2 separate regions of the Homo sapiens genome follow, and region 1 is linked to region 2. Evidence: fine-mapped expression QTL. A gene starts in region 2. The other region holds a variant in brackets. All regions are shown on one strand. Distances are between the middles of the regions.

Region 1 (5,360 bases), 33 kb after region 2:
ACTCCTGACCTCATGTGATCCACCTGCCTCAGCTTCCCAAAGTGCTGGGATTACAGGCGTGAGCCACCGTGCCTGGCCTCCAGCTGAATTCCTTTGCTTGAAGTGTATATATGTCTCCAGGGGCTGTCTTCATTTCAGCAGGCTGTCCTGGCCTGAAGGAGGCACCCCTAGGCTCCTTCCTCTGAACATTCCTAGCCTAGGAGCTGGGTGGTAGGAGGTAGCATGCTGGGAAGCAGGCACATTCCTATACCTGGGGTCCCAAGAGAGCCATTGGGTGGGTGGGCAGACAGAACATACAGTTTAATAGGGCCAGGGAGAAACTGTCTCCCTCCTTTGCTCTTTTCAGGCCTGCGGTCCCTGGGGCACTGATCATTATTTAAGGAGCAGTGAGGGCCTGGCATCCTGTCCCCTGGTCAGAAGAAACTACCCAAAACTTAAAGCTCCCCCAGCTCCCTGACCACCTCATTCACAGGCTTCTGTCCTGGGAGCCACACCTGGGGCCTCAGCAAGAGGAGGGCCCTGGGCCAGCAGCCTGGGCTTCTAGGGCTCACCTCACCTCTGCCAGTAGCGCCCAGAGGGCATATTCTGGGGGCTGAGTGGGTGGTGGGGGTAGGGAGAGACCCCAAATTCCCCCCTCTCCTAATTCTCCCACCCCCAACCTAGGCCCCATTTGAGGCTCAAGGAAAGCCCCAGGCTGAGTCCAGGCGCCAAGCAGACCCCAGCTGCACCTGGCTTGGCTCCAACACCATGGAGACAGTGGCTGGGGAAGCTGGCTAACCCCTCACCTTCTGTGATGTTTGACAGCTGACCCTCTCCCCATCATACAGGAAGGGTAGCAGATCCACTTTCTCCCAGTCTGGATTCCTGCACACAGCGAGCCTGAGCCATGTGTTCCTCCTTGCCACCCCAGCCTGCATTCAGTGCCTCTGATCCAGGGAGATGAACCCAGGGGTTGCTCCTGGACAGGGCAGATGAAGGGGCTGCTTGCTTGGAGGATGTATTGGGGGTGGAAGGAGCAGGTTAGAAGGAGTTTGGGCCATCAACCTGGCTCAGCACTGGTTTGGGGCACCCCAACCACCAGCAGAGTGCTCTCATCATCCCCTTTTGCTATCTTGTGGCTCAGGAAGCACCAGTCATTGGGGGTGGGGTGGGTAAGGGTTTCTCAGGGTCGACCCAGGCATAGGGAGAGAAAACCCTTAACATGTTTCATCCCAGCACCCTCCTCCTTGCAGCTGGTTGAGTATTTCTCAGGCCTTCTCCATCCTCCTCGTACTTCAGCTCCCTCCTCAACTGGGACTTGGTGTGTACCAGAGGCAGGGGCCTGCTGACTCCCTGGATGCTGCTCCTGGGAGCCCTGCACGGGGGAGGGCTGCAGAGGGGCCTCCTGCTGCATTCTGCAGTCCTCGTGCCCTGTGGGTGATGTTCTGTAGCTGGCCCTGGACACATCTCTTTCCAAGCTTGAAGTGGGGGTGGGGGAAGGTGGAGAGGACACTACTTGTGTCTCTTTGTTCTACCTCAGCTCCTCACCTCAGGGCTGAGTGGCCCTTAATAAATGTGGGGGGAGGGCAGCAGGCTTTGTGGAAGTGCAGGGAGCTGAGGCTAATTTAGAGTGGGGAGAAGAGTGCACAGCTGCCTCCTCCCACCCTCTCTCCCTCCCTCCCTCCTTCCCTCCCTCCCTTCCTCCCAGCTCTTTCCCTCTGCCCTGTCTGTGCAGCCCCAGTCAGGGTAGAGGGCAGAGGGCAGCTGGAGCAAGCCCCCTGAGCCCGGGAGGCTGCATTATTCATGAGTGCACTGCGTGCTGAGTTGCCTCTCCCTGGAGGAGGGGGTGGGGTGGTCCTAGCTAACCTGTGCTCCCTTTTCCTGGTCATAGGAGCTGACACAATGAGTGACACGAGTTCTGTAAGCTTGGAAGTGAGCCCTGGCAGCCGGGAGACTTCAGCTGCCACACTGTCACCTGGGGCGAGCAGCCGTGGCTGGGATGACGGTGACACCCGCAGCGAGCACAGCTACAGCGAGTCAGGTGCCAGCGGCTCCTCTTTTGAGGAGCTGGACTTGGAGGGCGAGGGGCCCTTAGGGGAGTCACGGCTGGACCCTGGGACTGAGCCCCTGGGGACTACCAAGTGGCTCTGGGAGCCCACTGCCCCTGAGAAGGGCAAGGAGTAACCCATGGCCTGCACCCTCCTGCAGTGCAGTTGCTGAGGAACTGAGCAGACTCTCCAGCAGACTCTCCAGCCCTCTTCCTCCTTCCTCTGGGGGAGGAGGGGTTCCTGAGGGACCTGACTTCCCCTGCTCCAGGCCTCTTGCTAAGCCTTCTCCTCACTGCCCTTTAGGCTCCCAGGGCCAGAGGAGCCAGGGACTATTTTCTGCACCAGCCCCCAGGGCTGCC[A/G]CCCCTGTTGTGTCTTTTTTTCAGACTCACAGTGGAGCTTCCAGGACCCAGAATAAAGCCAATGATTTACTTGTTTCACCTGGATTTGGGTTGTGTATTTGTTTGTTCTGCCTTGGTTGGGGGCGGTGGGGGGATGGCTGTACAGATAGGCTGGGAGTGGGAAGGAGCCTCCCCTCCCCAGGACAAAGAATGGAAGGAACATGGCAGGTACCCTGGGGTTGGGGGAGGAGGGGAGTTAGAGATCCTCCACGTCCTGCTCTGTGACCCCAGTGGCCAGCTGCCCCTCCATTGCAGCTGCCAGAGAGCAAGCAGAGCCTGGCTTGGGTGAGAGCTGAGTATGGGGTGCCCTTCAGGGCTCAGGAATGGGGAGCTCACAGCCTGTCTTCATCTGCCTCCAAGGGATGCCTTTGTGTCTGTGACTAGTGTGCCTGCACGCTGGTACTTCCCCAGTAGGCGAGGCTCCCCCACTGTGCCTGCCAGTGGCTGTGTACCTGTGTGTGTGCATGTGCACCCACGCTCATGCATTTGGCTCTGTGTAACCACGGATGGATGGGGCTGCTTGGGTAAAGCTGTGCCCAGGTGAGCATCAGGGTATGATTGTACCTGAGCATGGCTGAGTCTGTGTGGATGGCTGTGTGCCTGTGTGAGTGTGTGTGTGTGTGTGTGTGTGTGTGTGTATTGCTGTGCTTTGTGTCTGTGTATGGTTGTATTATAGGAGCATGTGAGGCTGGCTAACAGCATCTCTATGGGGGCTTTGTTCATGTACAACTGTGTGTGGCTGTGTCTGTACAACTGTGTGTATGGTGATGTTCATGACGTTCATGTATAAAGCTATGTGTTTTGCTATGTGTCCACATATAAAAACACACATTTGCTATGTGTCCTGCAGCCGTATATCCATAATTATGGCCATGTATGTGTGGACATGTCTTGGTGGACAGCTATTTGTGGCATGTCCTTGTGTGAGCAGCTGTATATATGTGGCTGTGTCCACATGTGCAGCCGTGTGTAGACATGGTCACATGTTCTTAGGGGCAGGGGTGTGCCCATGTGTATTATGGCTGTCTACAAGTATAGCTGTGTGTGGTTGCATGTTTATGTGTACTATGCATGTGGCCATGTCCACATTTACAACTGTGTAAGGCTAAGTGTATGTCCTCATCCGTGTGCACACAGCTGGGAGTGGTGGCTGCCTAGCTGTGTGTAACTGTGTGTCCATGTGCTGCGACTGTGCAGCTTGTTTGCTGCAGGCCACATCATGGGCTTTTCTGGCTGATGCTGTACACAGCCATATCTGTGTTTACAGCCCTGTGCCTTTTGTGAGGCTGACTTGTTGAGCAGGTTGGGAGTGTGGCTAGAAGGAGTGTGTGACTCCTCACCTCAGCACCCTCCTGCTGTCAACCCCTCTGCTCCAGAGGCCTGGCCCATTGCTCACCTACCCCAGGGAGCTGTTGCTCTGAGGCAGCCAGAGAGGGTGAGAGCAGCCGGTGGCAGAGTTGGAGGTGGAAGACAGCATGTCTGTCTCCCACTGCCACCTTGTCTCCTGTTAGTGATGGGGCTTGTGTTTGTTTGGGTTTTATGTGTCTGTTTCGTTTCAAAGCTGTATTCTTTCCACAGCAGCAGGACATCAGGTTTCTGTGTCCAGGGAAAAAGCTCGTCCTTGGTGATCACCCCCGCACCCCTACGGACTGCCACACGCACATGTGGGTGTGTGTGCCTGAGGGGTCTGGGCTTGGCATGTTCATTAGCATGTATCTGAGCTGGCCTTGCTTCCACTGACACCTGTGGAAGAAAGGGCAGTGTCGGGAATGTGTGTAGGGATGCCATGCCCCTTGGCACTTGTTAGTGTGTGCACATGTTAGGGGCAGATAGCACAGGCTCTCTAATCCCCATTCCTTCAGCACAGTCTGGCACTACAGCTTATCCACTACCCTCTACCCAGGGGCGTCCTTCCCCATCCTGCTGTGGGAGGGAAGAGTCAAGAGAATCTTCTCAGAGCTGTCCTCCCTCTGCTTGGGCTCCAGCTCTCACTCCCTCCTACGCAGCAGCCAGTTCCAGAAGCCTTTCCCTAGGCCCCTCCCCTCCCAGATGCCCCTGCCATCCCTAACACTCCCTCAGGGTTGACCCTAGTACTTGGTTCTGCAGCCCTTCCTGCAGGTTGCTCTCTCCTTGCTTAAATACCCTTTTTACATGGGAGTGGGTGGCAGGTTTAAAGGGCATCTGCAGGAAGGAAGGGGAGGCCCCATTCTCCTCTGACCTCTCCCTTCCCCCAATCTTTTCCTCATAGTGACTCTGGCTCCAGGTCTCAAAAGTGGCAGAGGACACATGCCTCCAACTCAGGCCTGGGATGTGGACCCAGCTGAAATCGCTGAGTGGGGAGAATAGACTCCACCCGTCTCCCACGCGCCCCTTTACCTATCCCCCAGAGGCACCCCTTGCACTAAGGCCAGCTCCTCCACTCTGCAGTAGCACTATGGGCACCTGTCGGGGCGCAGTGACCTTCCCCACCCCGTGCCCCGTGGCATCCCCCCGCCCCCCACCTATGCTCTCTAGGTGGTAGTCTGACTATGGGGCGGAGTGGGCCACGAAGCACCCGCTCCAGCGCAGAGCGAGAGCGCTCGGGGATTCAGCACCACGAGGCGGACAGCTCCAGGCCCTGAGGTCCCCAGAAAAGCTGGAGCGCGGAGTGTCCAGAGGAGGCGGAGGCTGGGTTGGGAGCAGGAGACCTGGCGTCTGGAGGAACGGAGGAGGGGCTGGGGGCGGGCCGGGGCCGGGGGCGGGGCGGGGCGGGCCGCGATTGAAAGCGGCGGGGCGAGCGGGCGGGCGGAGAGCGCAGAGCCAGCGAGCCAGCGAGCGAGCGAGCGGGAGCCGGAGCCTCGCGCCCCCCGCTCCACTCCGATTCTCTCCGCGCCAGAGCCAGCGCGCCAGGTAGGGTGAGCCGGTGGTGGTGGTGCCGCTGCCGCTGCCGACCTTT
Region 2 (5,360 bases):
TGGGACCTGTGCCTGGCTTCGAGGAGCATCTGTGGCTGGGTGATCCAGCTGCTGGTGTGATCATGGGCTTCCCTCCTCTCAGCAGGGCAGGCGCTCCTGCCCCAGAGACTGGGCAACTGGCTGTTTCTATGACGTATTTATTTTTACTTGTGTTTCATGTCACTTTTTTAAAAAAAAGCAAACAGAACAATTGTAAGTCAGTATAACTGCCTATCAGTTTTCTTTATTTCTCTTTTTGTAAAATAAAATTTAAACTCAAGAAGGCAGTGTTGTTTGATCAAGGAATTGTCTGGATAGTTGTTTGGCTGGGTGGTGGTGAAAGGAATAGATCTTAGAACATAGTGGGCTCTGGGATAGCCCTTGGGTGATGAGATAGGCAGGAACAGAAGGAAGACTGATGGCAGGCTCTTTGTTGCAGTGGGGTTCACTGGGCTTTTTCTGCTTTTGTTCACCTGAAGAAGGATGTATTACCAGGCTCCAGGGGAAACAGCAAGCTGACTTCAGAGTGGCTTGAAGCTAGCTGGTCCTCAGCCAAGGCAAGTCCTGCAGGGGCAGCCCTGACTAGACAGTGAGTGGCTGGGGATTGGGCACAATGCCTTCAGAGGGTGGGAGACAGTGTGTCTGTGAGTGGCTGGTGGCAGCGAAAACATTCTTATTGCATGTGTATTCTCTGTCATCCATGTTGGGGAATCTAGCCACTGGCCCACAGAGTTAAACAGAGCTTTGGAGTGTGAGAGGTGGGGGAAAGAAGGGACAGTCTACTCCAGCTTCCTGTTTAATTTCTTCAAGGGGAGGGGCCCTGGGGAAACAATTTTCTGGAAATTTACAAAGAAGGATAGAGAAAGAATCTCTGTAGTGATTCCTTGGACAGAGGAAGGCAAGAGGAGATGAAGGCCAAGTCTGGACTCATGATAGGGGAATCTGTGCTATTGGGAGATAAGATTGGGAGTGGAGGATGGTTGCAGCACATGGCTGGGCGAACAGGTTTCCTCAGACCTGTTACAAGGGGTTGGAATGAAGAAAGTGCCTTGTAGAGTAGGCTGCTGCCTCCTGGTGGCCAGCCGCTGCCTTGCAGGGATCCTGCCAAGGGACCTCACTTGGCACTGTTGGAAGCAGCCTGAGGTGAAGCTGGGCAGGCTGATGTCATGGCCTGCAGCCCCAGTCACCAGCGGACTCTCCTCCCACAAAAGAGGTGCTGAAGCTCCTGAGGCACATGTTGAACTCTGATGTGGGGCTCTAGAGTTCCCCAATCAGGCTAAGGGAAGTGAGCAGAGAGAACAAGATAAAGAATGGGCACTTCCTTATAATGGTTTCCTGGGAAAAGCTCACCACCTTCTGAGAAGCAGGAGAAATGACCACGCAGACCCTGCAGGCAGAGGCTGTCAGTCTCTGAGCCCGGGCCATGGCTGCTCCTTGTGTCAAAGGAAATGCTACCAAGTGTGTAGCCCGCCTGCCTGGGGCACCTAAGCTGAGGGTTTGACCATGTGCTTGATGTTCATAGGTAAAACAACTGCTGCGACCTGCACTGGCCCAGCCCGGAGTGCCTGTGAGGGGCCAGCTGCCTGTTCTGCCAGTTTGCCTAGAGGGCTGGGACAGGCTTGGCCCTGTGGATAAGGTTCAAACTCCCCTGCCTGCGGAAGGAAGAATGTGAAGCAGAGGGAAAGGAAGCTGGGATTTTGACTGTCTCTGTGTGCCCAGCCTGCTCTTTGCTGGTGCAGTAGTGGGATCCACAAGGTGAACCACCCTGTGACTGCTGACTTTTCCCACCACCACCTTCGTGGTGTTCCCATCTGCTGGATCCCCCTCCCAAACATCAGTCCTTGTCAGGATACCAAAGTAGCTCTTGGCCTCGCCGGTCTTGTAGCCAAGCTTATGAGCATAGTTGTCACCTTCCCCACCTCCCACCAAAAGTCCGGGATTTTCACGAGGGGAGCGTTTTATCTTTGGGCCCCTAGAAGAGTGCTTTGTAGTTTGTAGGTCCTCAGAAATTTGAGGTGAAGATTGAACCAATCATCAAGGAGCTTACACTTGACGTGGGAATCACGTAAGTTACCGCTAAACCACAAAGGTAGACCAGCCTCCCACAGCCACAACCTGGGCACTGAGGGAGGAGCCTGGAAGAAGGGCATTCCCATGGAACGTGAACTCCAGGAGGGCAGAACCTTGGTTTTGTTCACTCTATCCCCAGCCCCTAGAACTGTCCTGGCAAGGAGTAATAATAAGTGTTGGATGGATGAATATACTCACGGAAGTGGGAATGGGTGGGTGGAGGCAGGAAGCAGATATTTGCGCTATGCAGAAGTTGGATCCACCAGTTTCTTCCGCGAGCCCAGACTGGGCTTCAGCTTCCTCACCTATGCCTTTCTTGGTTCCCAAGTCTGTTGCGAAGCCACAGTGAGAGAAAGTGGCAGGACTAAAGGTGGTACAAATGCCAGAGGCTGATACTGCTGTGCTGCGCCTCCCTAGGCTGTACAAATTCTCCTCAGCCCCAGCTCCCTGGTCCCCAGCCTGGCCCTCTACTGCGGGCCACTGGGCTGCCTCCCGTACCCGAGCCTGGGCCAGGCTGTCACTGTGGTGCTCCTGCCAACCCAGATGCCCTGGGGTGTTGCTAAATCAACCTCAGCAACCGGATAGTTTGTTGGAGGCGGGAAGGTACGCCGTGGGTTCCGCCGCAGCCAGCGCTGGGGCTAGGCACACGCCCGTTGCCATGGAGACGGGGCGGGGCAGGCCTCCGCCCTCCGGGTCCCGCGCGCACGCGCCCACGGCCACGGCCATGTCCCGCCGCGAGAGGGGGCGGAGCGAGCGTGCGCGGCGGGCGCGCGCAGGCTCCGTAACCGAACCCTGAGCCGCCTGCGCGGATCGGCGTCCGCAGCGGGCGGCTGCTGAGGTGAGGGCCGGGCCAGAGGAGAGGCATACCCACTGGGGCGTAGGTCTGGGACTCCCCCTGTCCGCCCTGGCGCGACCTCAGGACTCTCCGTGTCCCCTCCGTGACCCCCGCGGCCCGGGCCGCTCTTTGCATCTTGTCTTGCCCACAGCTGGCCTCGGCCAGGTCCGAGGGCCTGGATGCGACCTTGGGGCAGCCCCTACTCTTCCGGGCAGCCCACTTCCGCGGCCACCGGTGCAGGGCATGCCCCGGGGCCGTGGAGGTGAGGGAAAGAGGCGCGAGTCGCGTTTTAACTCCGCCCCCGTCCCCCAAGGCCGCGCCTCGCAGCCTGGGCTGCAAACTTTAGCGTCCTTTAAGTTACAGACGTGCGTGGGGCTCCGTGAGGAGGTGGGCGAAGAGAAAGGCTCTGAGTAAATAGGCAAGGCCCGGGGTGAGCAGGGGCTGGAATCCGAAAGTGGGAGGCGGCGGCCCCCCACCCTCCATAGTCCTTCCGCCCTCTGCTAGCACCGAAGTTTAGCCCAGGACGGGGGCCGTTTAAGGGCCCGGCCCTCCGCCGCCGCGCACGTGAGCGGCACCAGGAAGCTGGCTGGGCGCAGCCTTCCCTGAGGCTCGCTGGCACCGGCCGCACGCGTCCATCCCGGGCCTCTGAGCGGAGGGGGAGCCGAGGCTAGAGGGAGGGCGCAGTCTGCCCAAGGTCAGCGGCAGCGGCAGTTTCTGGGCGCCAAGTGTGATTGGAGTACTCCAGGAAGAGGGGCGTGACCAGAGCTCTAGCGAAGAGACCTGACATTGTAAAGCTAGGTTTGGCTTCTGATTTCCACAGGGGGTTTGAGAATGGGACGAGGGTGCTTTAGAGGGACCGGTAGGCTTTCCCTGAGGACGGTAATCAGGGCATGATGGTTGGCTCAGTGGTTATTTCCTGGGCAGGGGTGACTGTTCTTTCAGCTCCCAGCACTGGAGCGCTCGGCCCCTGCCGCACTGGATGCCAGCAGTTACTAAAAGTGAGCCTGGCATTTCAGGTGAGCTCCCAGACCTTCTTCCTTTTCTCTTGAATATAGGGGAAATTCACGTTACCTCTCCACGTGCCGACCAAGGCTCTGAGACCCCCAGGTGGGTTTTCTTCCCCCCCGCCGTTTTCTGAGCAGTTTGGGAAGTGAGAGGAAGAGAAAGGTAGATACTAAGTTTCCTTGAGGAGACAGGAAGTGTTCAGCTGAGATGGCAGATCAGGGTGAGGGCTTGTCATTCCCAAGGCAAGTGGGGGCCTAGATGCTGAGAGTTTTCCAGCTTTGGGCTCAGAGATGTCCAACAAGGATTTAATGCTTCAGGCGTTTTGGAAGCCAGTCACCAGAGAGGAGAGAGAAAGTGGAAATGAGGGGCTGGAATCAGACTGTCTGGGCTTGTGTTGCCTGCATTTTGGTCCACGTGGCTCTGTTTAATACCTGTGTTACCTTGGGCAAGTCTCTTAACCTCTAACTACTTGAACCTTTAGCCTTACCTACCTCTTTGGATTGCTTTGAGGGTGAATGAAGTAGCTGTGTTTCAACATTTAGACAGTGCCTGGCGTATAGTAAGCATTCAGTGGAAGATTTCTCATCATTATCAAAGAAAATTGGAATGAAAGTTACTGGAGACAAGATGAGTAGGACAGGCAGAAAAGAGAGAGATACTGATGGGTAGAAGCACAGATGGGTGAGACTAGTGGGCAACACCTCAATTTCTTGACACCGAAAGTTTAGAAATTTACTTTGCCTCTTTGTGAGCAAATACTGTGTGCTCATTGACTCCAAAGACAATTTTTTTTTAGCGTAAAATCAACACCCAGCACCCACAGGGAAGAAATAATTCCACAGAGCTAAGTATTCCACAAAGTTGCAGCGTGGCCTTTTTAGCTTCAAAACCTTTTAAATGTTAAATATTACTTTTAAATAATTGGGGTGGGAATGTCCCCCCAGTGGGTCACATGGCTCCCTTCCTCTTTAAACAGTCTTCTCTGGGCTGTGATTTTTCCCCCCCGCCAGGCAACTCAGGTCAAGCCCTCTGTGTAAGAGGGTTAGGCCTCTGGCCCCAAGCTGCCTGGAGAACTAGGCAGCCTGCCTTGAATAGCTCACAGACTGGCCTCTGTGTTATGTTCCTGGGACTGCTCTTGAACAGCTTCTTTTCCTCTTAGGGATAATTGTTACTTCCTCCTGCTGTGCGACTCCCCTTTTAGCAGCCTTTTCCTCTTACTACTCACTGTTTCTTCTGTGGGCTGGAAAATTGGGATGAAGCTTGTTAACATTGGTGGTTCAAGTCTGGGAAGCTTAGTGTTGGACTTTGTTCTGCCTGCTCAGGCCGCTTTGCTCTGGTCTTTCCTCTGGTTCTGGATGGGTAAGCTTGCTGGATAGCAAGGTCCCTGCAGGCCAGATGTACTTAGAAAAGGAGAGTTTCTTATGAAATTCTCTTCCTGAGGCACATTTTTCCTCACAAGTTTTTGTTCCTT

Evidence for each region.
Region 1: its variant is fine-mapped to the expression of TEX264 in whole blood (TOPMed, PIP 0.99).

What each region holds. Positions count from the first base shown.
Region 1 is chr3:51,701,854-51,707,213 of GRCh38, forward strand. TEX264 (testis expressed 264, ER-phagy receptor) reads left to right here. Exons shown (of 5, transcript NM_015926.6): 5 at 1,871-2,470. The coding sequence ends at 2,163. It overlaps GRM2 (glutamate metabotropic receptor 2), which reads left to right and starts at 5,215. Exons shown (of 6, transcript NM_000839.5): 1 at 5,215-5,314. RefSeq lists an enhancer at 2,087-2,955. The variant A/G (reference allele first, on the strand shown) is at 2,387.
Region 2 is chr3:51,668,402-51,673,761 of GRCh38, forward strand. TEX264 (testis expressed 264, ER-phagy receptor) reads left to right here and starts at 2,851. Exons shown (of 5, transcript NM_015926.6): 1 at 2,851-2,887. It overlaps RAD54L2 (RAD54 like 2), which reads left to right. Exons shown (of 23, transcript NM_015106.4): 23 at 1-259. It overlaps LOC124906237 (a long non-coding RNA gene), which reads right to left and starts at 2,704. Exons shown (of 2, transcript XR_007095907.1): 1 at 2,248-2,704; 2 at 216-1,255. RefSeq lists a silencer at 2,587-3,016.